Linked DNA regions of Homo sapiens. The protein of the gene in region 1 interacts with the protein of each later gene in a pairwise test. Each region holds a gene or a part of one and is shown in the gene's direction. Other genes may lie near its edges.

Region 1 (3,942 bases):
ACCTCAGAAGGAGGCATCAGAGATGAGTGATCGCCATGTAAGGGGTGTGGAAATCAGCAAACCTGCCCATTTGGGTTTAGGAGACACTGTAGTGTGCAGGGAAAAAAAATGCTTTATTTTTATTAAAATGGAGCTCCACAGGACAGGAATAGAAGGTACCAACCCGTTGTTGCAAACACACCATGTTCCAGGCCAGCTAGCCAGGGTGGAGAAGGAACATGGCTGCAGATAACAGGGCTGAAGGAGTTAACAGGAAGAATATTTCAGCATTCACAGGGGTGAAGAACATGGGCTTCAGGCTGACTGCAGGATCTGCATCCTCCTTTCAGCACTTGGGACTCACCGCTTAACTGCTCTGGACTTCAGTGTCCCACGTGTTCTGTGGGAGAGTCGTCACTGTTCCATAGGGTTGCAGAAATACTGTAAGCAAAGGGCTTAGGACAGGGCTTGGCATGGAGTGAGTGCTCTAGAGTGGACAGTCATCCTTACTAGTTGTAAAAGTAGAGGTAGTGCTCATGTGGGGGAATGAATTGTTGGAGGAATTTTTCAAACCAAAGAGAAGCCAGGTTACTGTCAGAATAGTGGGATGGCTGCAAGACTTGGAGCTGTTTCTCCTAGTGTCTGTGAACTGTGAGACCAGGAGTACATGAGGAGTGAGGCAGTTGAAGAAATCTCTACTCCCATTGATAATGTATCCCTTTCCCAGAGATTCGAGTGTCTTGCAAAAATAACAGCTTCAGCCTATGTCTTCACTCAAGGATTCAGGCATGTATGATCTGAGGGACAGATATTTGGCAACTTAAGTATTCCCTGCTGCTCAATATGGCTTTTAGAAGAGAATGAGCAGAAAACAGCAATACTTCACAGTGATAATGTCTGGTGTGGCCCAAATGACTCACTAATCAATACATCATGGTGCTTCTCCCAGGCTGGGTTACATTTCCTGGAATCAGAAAGAGCGAAAATGTTCCTTCTGAAGATTCTTCAGTTCTGAGAATGCTCGTTCTATTACCCACACAAAATGCAAGCATCAGTCCACTTCCCATAGAAAGCAAACACAGTGCTCATGTGAATCTTTCTCATTCTCTGCAGGATACATACTGCAGTACTCCGAGGACAATAGTGAGCAGTGGGGGAGTTTTCCAATCAGCCCCAGCGAACGTTCCTATCGCTTGGAAAATCTCAAATGTGGGACTTGGTATAAGTTCACACTGACAGCCCAAAATGGAGTGGGCCCAGGGCGCATAAGTGAAATCATAGAAGCAAAGACCTTAGGAAAAGGTAGGTATGCCTTCTCATCGCTTCTTAATATCCTTTCTTTTCCCGGCCAGAAGAGGAGATTGGAATCATAAAAGATCCATCATGTTTTACGTTTATGTGTTTGAACTTTGTCATTCCTCACATGGCTTCAGCAGTGCCACGGCATAATGAGAGGGACAGCTGGACCTTCCAGAGTGTTCTGGTCCTCTCTTTTATTGTTTCATTTGCAGTTAAAAAGAAGAATGTCAGTTTGAAAATCAAGGGCGTTGGTGTGAATGTGAGGTGCCAAGGCTGGGCAGCCATGAAGCGTGGCGCTTGCCCTCTCAGCCGTTTGGAGGCGCCCTTCTCCCTTAGCCACCCTTGCTCCCACCTTCCTATCATTTCCACATTGCCACATAGCCACCGCTTTTCAGAGGGAAAATGATGGGGTAAATTGCGTTTGTTTTTTTTTTAATCTAAAATGTGGACTTTCAAGGAGATGAATCCCAAAGAAATCATATTCAGAGAAAGAGGTTTTGTCCCAGGAACTCCAGAAGGAAGGAGGGATGATGCAGCTCTATGTGGGCATAGGAAGAAGGTGAGGAGATGTCTTTGCAGGCTTCCCTCCCATAGGAGTCCTACCAGGTGGGGTGGGGTCAGATGGCAGGAGAGCGAGTAATGAGATAGCAAGGGTATTATTTGTGCCTGGTGCCACAGTTTTGGGTAACAAGTGGTAAGAGGTCAAATGATCGGGGATTGATTTATGCAGAAATATATCCTTTAGGTCCCTGGGCACCAAGACCAAGTGTTTAGTTGTGGAGGAAAATCTGTTGGTGCTTCCCAAATCCAACTCTGTCTTCTCTTGAATCAGGTTCATCACATGAGGATGGAAAAAGTGCCCAGCACACTGCCCCGCAAACCACAGAAGGAAACCCATATGTGAACATCCTATTGTTCTTTAGGGAACTCTAAGATACCCCAAAATAACCTCCACCCATGCAATTTTCTGTCACACACCCAGGTCATTACAGTTGGAGAAAGCCTGTTGGTCCATAAAGTCTCTATTAACAGGGGACAAGTTGCCAGTGGCCTGTGAGCCAGACTTGGACTGAGCTCCTGGCCTCGCTGGAGGAAGCAGTCCGAGGGAAATGCGTGAAGATGCTGATGGCCTCCCCATGTGTCCTGTGAGCTGACCTCCATGTGCCTTCTCCCCCAGAGCCCCAGTTCTCAAAGGAGCAGGAGCTGTTTGCCAGCATCAACACCACACGCGTGAGGCTGAACCTCATTGGCTGGAATGATGGCGGCTGCCCCATCACCTCCTTCACACTAGAGTACAGGCCCTTTGGGACCACAGTTTGGACCACAGCTCAGAGGACCTCTCTCTCCAAGTCCTACATCCTGTATGACCTGCAGGAAGCCACCTGGTATGAGCTGCAGATGCGGGTGTGCAACAGTGCGGGCTGCGCGGAGAAGCAGGCCAACTTCGCTACGCTGAACTACGATGGCAGTAAGCTGGCTGGCTTTGTGGCTCTCCTGCTTGTGTCTTGGGGGATGTGCACGTGGGCCCTGCCCCTTTCCCATCGAACATCATCTTTGCCATAGTTTGACCAGTGCCCACGGAGCCCATTAGGCTTTCGGGATTCAATGGACTCTGTCTGGGGCTCCCTAGTTCGTTATATCCAGATGACCATCACTGTGTGTCCAGAAATAAGAGACTCAGGGCCATAGGGAGTCTCACTGGGGAGTCATGGGGCAGGAGTGATTTCTCTTAGGGCTGAAGGACTCTTGACCCTGTGGTTCTGTGCTTGTGTTGATGTCTATGAGCTAACATTGCTTTTGTTGTCTCCCACCCCTTTCCCCACCTCATCCCAATCCACATAACAACTTTCTTTTTTGCACTCATTACACCCTAAACTGCATGTGCAAAAACAATTTTCCATGGTAAAGGAGCTTATGTTAGTCTCTGGGCAGGAGCAGGGCCACTGATGGAAATAGGATAATAATAGGAATCCATGAACACGTGCACACACACAAACTCACACACACTTGCCACTTGCATTTACTTTCCAAAAACTAGGTGAGGTGTCTCTTGACATTAGTTAACCAAAAATAAATGGTTTAAAATCTCACTCATTTTTTCTGGTATCAAGGGCCATTTATTGCTAACTGAACAAATGCTAAGCCCAGTGAAGCTGAAAGGAGCGAGTCCTCGACTGCAACTTAGTAGGGGAACTTTAGAAAGTCCCAGCAGCAGCGGGCTGATGCTCATTTCTCACTAGGGGAACAGCAAGGATTGAGTTAGGTGCTCTAATTGCAAGGTAAAAACGGCAGCAATGCATCAGGATGAGTTGGAACTCCAGTGCAACTCTCCTCAGAGCCTTCTATTCACTGCCTGTTGGTCAGGCTAGACCACAGTGTTGAATGAGTTAACCAAGAAACACCCAAACCCTTTATTGACAGCCAAGCCAAGACCACGTTGGAAGTGCTCCTCTACCTGTGGGTGATGCTTTGTGAGGGGATGCCTTTCAATGAAGTCACTCATAACTGAGGGCTGTAAAATTAGACAGAGGCAGCCCATGAAAAGCATCAGCATTGCTCTCTAGGAGAGTGATTCTTTCTTTACTTTGTGCATTTGGGAGGCCGCTTTATTAAAGCTCCAGCAGGTAGCTCCTTGGAGCACAGTTTATGCCATCCTAAGAAGAG
Region 2 (3,500 bases), on another chromosome or scaffold:
TTTTTTTTTTTGAGACAGAGTCTCGCTCTGTCGCCCAGGCTGGAGTGCAGGGCGTGATCTCGGCTCACTGCAACCTCTGCCTCCCAGGTTCAAGAGATTCTTCTGCCTCAGCCTCCCAAGTAGCTGGGACTACAGGCGTGTGCCACCATGCCCAGCTAATTTTTGTATCTTTAGTAGAGACAGGGTTTCACCATATTGGCCAGGCTGGTCTCGTACTCCTGACCTGGTGATTCGCCCACCTCAGCCTCCCAAAGTGCTGAGATTACAGGCGTGAGCCACAGGGCCCGCCGTATTTGATTTTTAAAGGTATTGAGGGGGTGGGAACTTTGCTTATGACATGATGGGTTTAGCCTGTGCCTTGGACTTAATAGACACTTAGAGGCTATTGGTTTCTGCTCAATGGCTCCAGGCCCCATGGGATTTCAAGTCGGGGAGGTATTCCTCAGATTTGGTGTCAACAAAAAGAAAGCCAAATCCATTTTGTCTTGGCCTATTGTTATTATTGTTACTTTTTAGCTTCAGAGAGGATACTGAAACTTTTATAATGAAGGCAACAAAGTCTTTCATTATTTAGGAAAAGAGGGACAGATCTTAAATGTGTTATAGACTGCCTTTTTTTTCCTCCCTGCCAACCCAACTTACTGATGAAACAGCATTTTAAAAAGTCATGTGAGGCCGGGTGCAGTGGCTCACACCTGTAATCCCAGCACTTTTTGGGGCTGAGGCAGGTGGATCACTTGAGTCCAGGAGTTCCAGACCAGCCTGGCCAACATGGCAAAACCCCATCTCTACTGAAAATACAAAAATTAGCCAGGTGTGGTGGCACATGCCTGTGATCCTAGATACTCGGGAGGCTGAGGCAGGAGGATGGCTTGAACCCAGGAGGCAGAGGTGGCAGTGAGCTGTGATTGTGCCACGGCACTCCAGCCTGGGCGACAGAGCGAGACTCTGTCTCAAAAAAGTAAAATAAAATAAAAAGTCATATGAGTTAGTGGTTAAGTAGATGACCCACTGAAATTATTACACTGTGTCATTTCTCTGATGTTTGCTTAATGAAAAATTTTTAAGCCTAGTGTTTCTCAAACTTTAGAGTGCACATAACTCCCCTAAAGAGTTGGTTAAAGTGTAAACGCTGATTCAGTAGGTCTAAGTGGGGCCTAAACTTATGCATTTCAATAAGGATCCAGCTTTTGCTGCCCCCAATGTAGCAAGGCATCAGGTTTTATATGGAAGACAGGTGGGATTGCTTCATGGTTTCGGTTCTTGTCCTTGCCAGTTTGAGTTTGTATTTCTCTTTGATCTGTCCAGGTTTGGTCGCTGGCTACGGTAGCTACAGATCTTTGCCTTGGTCCGAAATCTGACCCAGATTTGGAAACACCCTGGGCTCGACATCCATTTGGGCGGCAGCTGCTGGAGTCCCTGTAGGTTTTGAGAGCTAAAAATGAGAAAAATGAGTGATGTCCATTTTTGGTCTGTAAACACTTGAAATGTCACCACCTAAGAGAAAGGTGCAGAGGCCCGAGGAATGAAAGGAAGGAGTAGGATCTTTCCTTTCAGTGCTGAAATAATTTCTGTGCAGAACAAACTTCTTATAGCAGACAGAACCATACATTACTTGTCATTTATAACAAGGATTTGAGACCCCTGAGACTCATGTATCCTTTAGAGATTCATGCTTTAGTCCATAAATCACATCAGTCTGAATACAGGAGTTTGAGCTCATGAGATGGTAAGTTTCTTCTTGAAAGCTCTAGGGTCTCACCCTTGAGAATGGATTAGAGAATTGCATGTTGGTGTTCATGTTTGCCAAAGACCACGACGCTTTCACCCTGTTAGGCAATTTGAGAAAACATTGCCTTTGCGTTCAGTTTATTGCACTGACATATGGAAAACTAGGGTATACTATACAAAATAATTTAACACCAAGTAAAACCACTTGAATCTCCATAACTTGGAGGCCCAGGGCCTGGGGAGAGAAACGCTCCTGACTTCAAGTTGAAGTTTGCTTAATTTATGCATTAAGGCCACCCCTGGGACACGTGTTCGTGCTTCCGTTTCCTTGTCACTAACACAGGGATGATAAGGTTTACTCTACTTATTTCGTGTAAGACTCAAATAAGATAGTGAGTGTGAAAACACAAATATTAGACATTGAGTGATAGGAGGACATTAATATTATTCATTCTTAAAGGCAAAGCCCCTCTGATTCCTTACTCACATTCTAGCATAATCTTCCTGAAAGGACAAAGGGGATATGAGTACCTAAAGGACAGAAACACTCCTTGTTGTTCTTACCTAATAGCTCATCTTCATAACTGCACCTCCAGAGTCGATTGCCTGCTAGCATGCTGTGGCGGTCCAGTGTCCTCTGAGCTCCTTCATGTAGCTTTAGGTTATATAAATGACATGTGTGGGAATCCCCCAAAAGCAGTGTGATTCTTCCTTGGAGCTGGGAAGACAGAGCATGTATTGGCTCGCTCAGATGTCAGGTTAGTCCACTTAGTTCTTGGAGAAGCCACATTCATGTTTAAGCCCATGCCTGAAAGTTAGCCAGAGGCTTTGAGATGCGTTCTGTAGATCATTTGTAGTACGTGGATGCCTTATATTCCAAAACAAGTTTAGGCAAACTCAAAGTAGGTCAAACTGCCGGATCTGTAGAAAGCCCCATTTCCTGATGGGTTTTTGAGGCAGAATCAAGACTCCTCCCTTCCCACCCCTGTGGCAGTAACACGCCATGACTGTGACCGCTTTCCTCCTCAATCCCTCCTCCTGACTTGTTTTCTTTCCTCTTATCTTTTCCTCAGGTTGGCTCACTATTGCCGGCTCCGGGATGTTCAGACACTGGCGATGCTCTGTAGCGTGTTTGAAGCCCAGTCTCGGCCTCAGGGGCTACCAAACCCCTTTGGGCCTTTTCCTAACCGTTCTTCTAATCTTGTGGTGTCCCATAGTCGATATGTAAGTTTGTCCTTTTCTGGTTTTGTCTGATTTTTTTTTTTTTTTTTTTTTGAGACGGAGTTTTACTTTGTTGCCCAGGCTGGAGTGCAATGGCATGATCTCAGCTCACTGCAACCTCCGCCTCCTGGGTTCAAGCAATTCTCGTGCCTCAGCCTCCTGAATAGCTGGGATTACAGGCATGCACCACCACTCTTGGTATATTTTTGTGGTTTTAGTAGAGATGAGGTTTCACCATGTTGGCCAGGCTGGTCTCGAACCCCTGACCTCAGGTGTTCCACCTTCCTTGGCCTCCCAAACTGCTAGGATTACAGGCATGAGCCACCGTGCTTGGCCTGCTGTTTTCTTAATGTGAACTGTCATGGGGAATGGTATTCTCATGCTAGTCCTGTTGGTTCTTCTCTTCCCTTCTGTAGCCTAGCTTTACCTCTTCTGGTTCCTGCTCCAGTATGTCAGACCCAGGGCTCAACACTGGCGGCTGGAACATAGGTTTGTATGGAAATGACTTAGCCCACGCTGGATTTTTAGTTCTCCCAGAGCTGTGCATA
Region 3 (3,500 bases), on another chromosome or scaffold:
CACTGAGAGGCATGTTCAGGCTTGTTCTGAGACATAGATTTCCTTCATGTGGAAGATTCTGGACTTGGACAAGGTGGGAGGAAGCCAGCCCTGTTGAGCAAGCCCTGCTCTCAAAGAGTTTCAACCCTTACTTTCAAAAACTGTTTTACTAACTCAAACATCAAAAGCTCTACAGAAAAGCCAACCACCAAACAAAACCCTGCTGATGATGGGTTTTTAACTCCTTACTGCTTGAAACTTTGTGATAAATGTACATTTATTTGCCTAGCTGCAAACTCAACTCGTATTTTGCCTTTTTTCTTAACCAATATTTTATGTGTGTGTGTGTGTGTGTGTATATATATATATATATATATATATATTTTTTTTTTTTTTTTTTTTTTTGAGATGGTGTCTCGCTCTGTCGCCCAGGCTGGAGTGCAGTGGTGTGATCTCGGCCCACTGCAAGCTCTGCCTCCCAGGTTCAAGCGACTCTCCTGAGTAGCTGGGACTACAGGTGCATGCCACCAAGCCTGGCTAATTTTTGTATTTTTAGTAGAGATGGGGTTTCACCATATTGGCCAGGCTGGTCTCGAACTCGAGTCAGGGTAAAGTTTTTAGACATACAGGGAAAGATGACTAGGAAGAAAATGGAGAAGGCCAAGGTAATCTTATATTTATTACCAGTGACCATTGTGGCAGCAATGGTTGTTAGGTTTTATAATGTTATATCACTGCTCACCAAACAGAATTTGTTCTTTTGTTATGGAGCAGGTTCAGTAATAAGAGTTGGTGAGTATTATTCAGAAGAGAAGCTGCCTCTTGGGTTGAGTAATTAATAAAGTGATTCATTGGGAGGTAGTTTTTGTCTGTAAGAATCTCTAAGGAATGATCACAATGATAAGTTTTAGGACATCCCGTTTTAAAAACTGGACTCTTACAAACTTTGTTATCTAGATAGCATTAGGTATAACTAAATTGGGGAGACAAAAGTGAAAAACGATTAACCATATAAGGGTGGTTTCATGCAGGTACTGTGGATGTGTGCTGGGCCCTGTTCTGAGAGTTAGATACACAGTGGTAAATGAAGCCGATGATATATCTACCCTTATGGAACTCAAGAAAAACAGGGGGATGGACACAAAATGCCAGCTGTGGGATGTCAGTCATACATTCTGTGTTGTCTGCATCTCCCTGGGTTCCCTGCCCAGCACACTTGTGTTCAGACACAATGAATGCACTGACACATGGAAACAGCACATACTGCAATGTGTTCATTTTAAGTGGCTCAACCTCATCAGCAGGGCTTCTCTGTGCTTTAAATTACAGTAAAAACAAATGAAAAGTGAAATGAAAAGGTAGACATATAGAATATCAGTCTACTTTTTTTACTCGTAGAATCAAAAGACATTTTCCCATGTCAAATTGCTGTAAAAGTTTTTGTTTTTGTTTTCTTTTTAAAAAAGTATAAGAAACTCAGGTGATATAAAAGTTTTTATATACTTTTAATTTCAGAAATGATCTTGCTGTGGTCAGCAGACCACACTTTGAGGAACACTGAACTGGCAGGATTGAATTTGTAGCAGGGCTCTTAGTAAACTGTGGGTGGTTGGTGTGTTAGTGAGCTGGAGAATTGAGGACTGTTGTTTGTGCCTAGTATTTGGTTCTCCCACCCTTTGAACATTGGGGAGCTACAGCAGGTGCTGCTTACAGCTTTATGCTTTAGTGCCAAAACGTCTTTGACCCCTGTGCTTTGGAACTGTCTCAGATATGGCTAAATATGAACAAGTTATCCTATTAAATTTAAATAAATGAAAGAAAAACCCCACTTTTACATTATAACTTTAAAAAATCCTTCATATGATAAATAGGGCCTTAACTTACCAGTTATGAATCGATAGTTATAATCAAATGATACTAAAGCGCTCATACCAAAAGTCAGAGTCATCCTGTTCTCCAGAAGCATGTTTTCAGTGCTTTTAGCTGCTACATCTGAAATTTATTGCTATATTTGTAAATTATGTACTTATGTGGCTAGTTCATTTATCAGTTTTATACATTTATTGACGTCCTCTAGCAGTAGTTGTAGTTATTGAACTAGTTAGTTCAATAGTAGTTGAATATTTAACTCCTATACTTGCTGCCTCCCTTAAGTGGGCATACCATAATTTTGGGTTAAAGTGATAGTTGTTTCTTTTATCATGACTATGTAAATACCATTTATATGTGAGCTAAACAGTCTCATACGATTACATTTCCTTTTTTAAACAACACCCCTGCCCCCACATCGCTTTTAGTTTTTCATTTGCTTAGTTTTCTTTGTACCTATCATCACCTTCCTCCTCAGATACCCTAAAAGGTATAACAAATGCCTAACAAAGTTTAGTCTTTATCACATTTTCCAAATGCTTAATTTAACACCACACGTCAGATAATTTATTGTTGCAAGATAACCTGTTGATTTCAATTTTTTCTCCCTGGAGTTTCCTCATAGCTATGCAGGTATGGTTGCCCCTGGACCTGGCATGTAGCTATTATTGTCCTGGAATGTCTGTTTCCTGGATACTGCAGTCTTCCTTTTTGGTTTACTATCTTACTTTCCTGAAGCACATCCTCTAGTAGTTTTAAAAGAAAGGGTATATGGGTATTAAGGTTTTAAGTCCTTGTATGGCTGAAAATCCCTTTTTCTTATCACTGCCTCATCTTCTCTTGTCTGGAACATAACTGCTTTCGATTTCTTTAGGGACTAAATCTCTGGTTTCCTGTGGGTATGGAGTGATGTGAGGCAGTTACCAGACTGTGTAAGGCAGAGAAAGGGGACCTGGGGCTTTCAACCACTAAATATGCAAACTTTCATCAGTTCTGATTTTGGCCTTGCACCTCACTTGGTATTGGTTTATTCCAAATGATGACCTTGTCAGGGTTTTGTAGGTCCAACTGTCTCACTTCTTTTTGGTATCCTTTAGTAGGCACTTAGGTTGTAATTTTTACCTCTTAGTTACTACTCCATCCACTTTTTATTTTATCTTTTTTTTTTTTTTTTTTGAGACAGTCTCACTGTTGCTTAGGCTGGAGTGCAGTGGCGCCATCTTGGCTTACTGTAGCCTCCGCCTTGTGGGTACAAGCAATTCTCTTGCCTCAGCCTCCCAAGTAGCTGGGACTGCAGGTGCGGACCACCATGCTCGGCTAATATTTGTACGTTTAGTAGAAATGGGGTTTGACTATGTTGGCCAGGCTGTTATCGAACTCCTGACCTCAGGTGATCCCCCTGCCTGGGCCTCTCAAAGTGCTGGGATTACAGGCATGAACCACTGCCCCTGGTCTGCCTGTCTGTCTGTGTCTTTTGAGACAGAGTTTTGCTCTGTCCCCCAGGCTGCAGTACAGTGGTGTGATCACAGCTCACTGCAGCCTCAACCTCCTGGGCTCAAGCAAACTTCCCACATCAGCCTCTTGAATAGCTGGGACTACAGGTGTGCACCACCATGTCCAGCTAAGTTTTTTTTTTTTGTTTTTTTTTTTTT
Region 4 (3,500 bases), on another chromosome or scaffold:
CATAGTGGTGGCGGGGTGGATTACATGCATTTCTTTTCTTTTCTTCTTTTTTTTTTTTTGAGATGGAGTTTCGCTTTTTCACCCAGGCTGGGGTGCAGTGGTGCAATCTCAGCTCACTGCAACCTCCACCTTCTGGTTTCAAGTGCTTCTCCTGCCTCAGCTTCCCGAGTAGCTGGGATTACAGGTGCCTGCCACTACGCCCAGCTAATTTTTGTATTTTTAGTAGAGACAGGGTTTCACCATGTTGGCCAGGCTGGTCTCGAACTCCTGACCTCATGATCCACCCACCTTGGCCTCCCAAAGTACTGGGATTACAGGCGTGAACCACTGCGCCCCGCCTCTTCTTTTTTTTTTTTTTTTTTTTTTTAAGACGGAGTTTCTCTTGCCCACCCTGGAGTGCAGTGGTGTGATCTCGGCTCACTGCAACCTCTGCCTCCCGGATTCAAGGGATTCTCCTGTCTCAGCTTCCCGAGTAGCTGGGATTATAGGCGTGTGCCACTAATTTTTGTGTTTTTAGTAGAGACGGGGTTTCACCATGTTGGCCAGGCTGGTCTCGAACTCCTGACCTCAGGTGGTCCACCCATCTCGGCCTCCCAAAGTGCGGGGATTATAAGCATGAGCCATTGTGCCCAGACCTTTTTTTTTTCTTTTTTCTTTTTTTTTTTAAAGACAGGATCTCACTCCGTTTCCTAGGCTGGAGTTCAGTGGCATGATCATGGCTCACTGCAGCCTCTACCTCCCAGGTCCAAGTGATCCTCTCACCTCAGCCTCCTGAGTAGCTGGGACCACAGGTGTGCATCACCAGGCCTGACTAGACTGTTTTTTTTTGTTGTTGTTGTTGTTGTTGTTGTTTTTGAGACGGAGTTTCCCTCTGTTGCCCAGGCTGGAGTGCAGTGGTGTGATCTTGGCTCACTGCAACCTCCACCTCCCGGGTTCAAGCAATTCTCTGCCTCAGCCTCCCGAGTAGCTGGGATTACAGGCGCCCACCACCATACCTGACTAATTTTTTGTATTTTTAGTAGAGACGGGGGTTTCACCATGTTGGCCAGGCTGATCATGAGCTCCTGTCCTCATGATCCACCCGCCTCGGCCTCCCAAAGTGCTGGGATTACAGGCATGAGCCACCGTGCCCAACCCTAACTAATTTTTTAAGTTTTTGGATTTAGGAGGTCTCACTATGTTGCCCAGGCCGGTTTCAAACTCCTGGGCTCAAGTGATCTTCCCACTTCGGCCTCCCAAAGTGTTGAGATTACAGGTGTGAGCCACCACGTCCAGCCTTACATGGATTTCATATATGTACACAGATATCTCTAGGCAAGAAACTAGTCACGGAGTTGCCTTTGGGAGAGGTTACTGAGATTCTAGGGGTTAGAAATGTGAGGGAGACTTAATTGATACTTACATCCTCTATGGACATTGGAGTTTTTCATTATGTGCATGTATTACGTTTTTAGTGTAATGTTTGATACCTGCAAAGCAGTACATCCAACATGGTAAAGAGATTAAGTACATGGACCATGGAGCCAGACTGCCTCTCTCAGATCCCAGCTGAGTCTGTGGGCAAGTTCCTTAATCTCTCTGGGTCTCAGAGCCTTTGCTGTAAAATAGGAACAACGATAGTGCCTCCCTCGGGGTTGCCAGGAAGATCAGTGAGGAACCTGTGTCAGGTACTCAGAACAGGGCAGGGTGTATAGTATGCTCTCAGCATTAGCTGTTATAAATGTACAAGAATCATAAAACCAACAGACCATGAACCATCTTTTAAAAAACTATTTATTGATCATTTTCTGATAGTTGGGAGGGAACTTTTCTTTTTGCTTACTTTGATCTTAGTTTTTTAAAAGGGATTTGGGAGTGGAGTAAGGAGAGGGGATGACTTTTAGAGTTAGTTGGAGCTGTATGTCCCCCTCGATCCTGATGCGTGCACCAGCTCTGTGGCACGGCCCCAGACGAGTGCCTCCCTGTTGGAGCCTCAGTGTCCTGCTCTGTGCGGTGGGGATTTGTAGTGCACATCTCCCAGAGGAGATGCTTCGTGTCCTGGGAGCTGTTATGAGGTCACCTTTGCCACTTACCACTTGGCCTTTCCGTTTTAGATGTTGACGATGAGTATGAGGACGAGGACCAGTGGGAGGATGGAGCAGAGGACATTCTAGAGAAAGGTGTGTGTGAGCCCTGCCTCCACAAGACTACTGGGAAGAGGGTGGCTGAGAGGGTCTTCAGAGCCCATTCCCCCGACCCCCGCATCCCCTGTACACCCCAACTCCCACCGTCCTCACCTTGCTTCTTTCTGTCCTTCCCAGAGAGACCAGCTCCCTGCTTTTTCCTTTTAGGCCCATGAGTGGGGGGTGGGGCCCTGGGGTGGGGATGTTGTGGGGAGAGGACTCTGGGATCCCAGGGCCCAGTGAATCCCTTCTGGGGTTGTAGGGTGGGCGAGCTCTGTCCCAAGATACCCCCCACTTCCTGGGCCAGTGCCCCCCTTTCCCCGTTATTTTCCGTTCTGTGCGCCTCATACATTTCGGCTTCTCCCCAACCACCTGGTGCCTGGCCTTTACTTTTGGTTTTCAACCTTTCTGTGTCCCTCCCTTCCCCTCCCCCAACCCATTGGTTGATTTTGCTGCTATAATTTGGCTCATACTTTGTCTGCCCTCGCCCACCACCACCACCACCACCACCACCACCACCACCACCACCACCTCCTCTTCCTCCAAGTAGAAGAGATTGAAGGTAAGAATATGAAAAGTGTGATTCCCTGACCTTCCTCCCATATCCTGACATTTCCTCCTTCCTGAGGCACCTGCCCTCACCGGTAGCCTCCCCACCAGCCCCGGTCTGGCCCTGAGGGCTCTGACCCATGTAGGATCCAGAGTCAGGGAGTTCTGGGGCCAGGTATACCCCAGTTGTTGACCTGGGAAAGCACGGATGTGTCTGTCTGGGACTGAGCATTTGTGGGTGGTAGCGATGTGTGGGGTGGGGTGCAGTCCAGGGTGTGCCTGGACTTTGAGATGGGAACAGCTGGAAGCCCCCCAACTTGCTGGGCCCCATCCCCAGTCTTTTTGACAAGAAGCAGGATGCTGAGTAGGACAGAGTAGGGGATGAGGGGTTGGGATTTCCTCTGTGAGATGTCATCTTCCTGCCCCAGGGCCAAACCCTGGCCCTCTTAGCTGCACGCTCCTATTTTCTCCAGGCCCCTGCCCTCCACCTGCCCTTGCTCACGCCCTCTGCCCATTATTTTTCAGCCTCCAATATCGATAATGTTGTCCTGGATGAAGATCGTTCTGGGGCTCGCCGCCTGCAAAACCTCTGGAGGTGGGCAAGGAAGGGAAACGTGGTGGGATTGGCTCCTGTGGGGAGATTTGGGAGTAGGTCAGCCCACCTGCTGTCCTCAACCTTCAATTCGTGTTTGCTTCCCCACTCGTGCTCCAGGGACCAGCGAGAAGAAGAACTGGGCGAGTATTACATGAAGAAATACGCCAAGTCATCTGTGGGAGAGACGTAAGGGC

The links. The genes of interacting proteins can lie anywhere in the genome.
Region 2: the proteins of DSCAM (region 1) and WDR59 interact in a two-hybrid assay, tested with the Homo sapiens proteins (one large-scale study listed by BioGRID and IntAct).
Region 3: the proteins of DSCAM (region 1) and MAP4K4 interact in a two-hybrid assay, tested with the Homo sapiens proteins (one large-scale study listed by BioGRID and IntAct).
Region 4: the proteins of DSCAM (region 1) and SUPT5H interact in a two-hybrid assay, tested with the Homo sapiens proteins (one large-scale study listed by BioGRID and IntAct).

What each region holds. Positions count from the first base shown.
Region 1 is NC_000021.9:40,077,491-40,081,432, reverse strand, and holds part of DSCAM (cell adhesion molecule DSCAM isoform CHD2-42 precursor), read left to right. Parts: intron 1-1,092; coding exon 1,093-1,281; intron 1,282-2,455; coding exon 2,456-2,746; intron 2,747-3,942. UniProt on the Homo sapiens protein: Cell adhesion molecule that plays a role in neuronal self-avoidance. Promotes repulsion between specific neuronal processes of either the same cell or the same subtype of cells.
Region 2 is NC_000016.10:74,887,624-74,891,123, reverse strand, and holds part of WDR59 (GATOR2 complex protein WDR59), read left to right. Parts: intron 1-1,308; coding exon 1,309-1,421; intron 1,422-2,804; coding exon 2,805-2,955; intron 2,956-3,368; coding exon 3,369-3,441; intron 3,442-3,500. UniProt on the Homo sapiens protein: As a component of the GATOR2 complex, functions as an activator of the amino acid-sensing branch of the mTORC1 signaling pathway. The GATOR2 complex indirectly activates mTORC1 through the inhibition of the GATOR1 subcomplex.
Region 3 is NC_000002.12:101,704,207-101,707,706, forward strand, and holds part of MAP4K4 (mitogen-activated protein kinase kinase kinase kinase 4), read left to right. Parts: intron 1-3,500.
Region 4 is NC_000019.10:39,455,582-39,459,081, forward strand, and holds part of SUPT5H (transcription elongation factor SPT5), read left to right. Parts: intron 1-2,093; coding exon 2,094-2,159; intron 2,160-2,712; coding exon 2,713-2,724; intron 2,725-3,236; coding exon 3,237-3,306; intron 3,307-3,423; coding exon 3,424-3,492; intron 3,493-3,500. UniProt on the Homo sapiens protein: Component of the DRB sensitivity-inducing factor complex (DSIF complex), which regulates mRNA processing and transcription elongation by RNA polymerase II.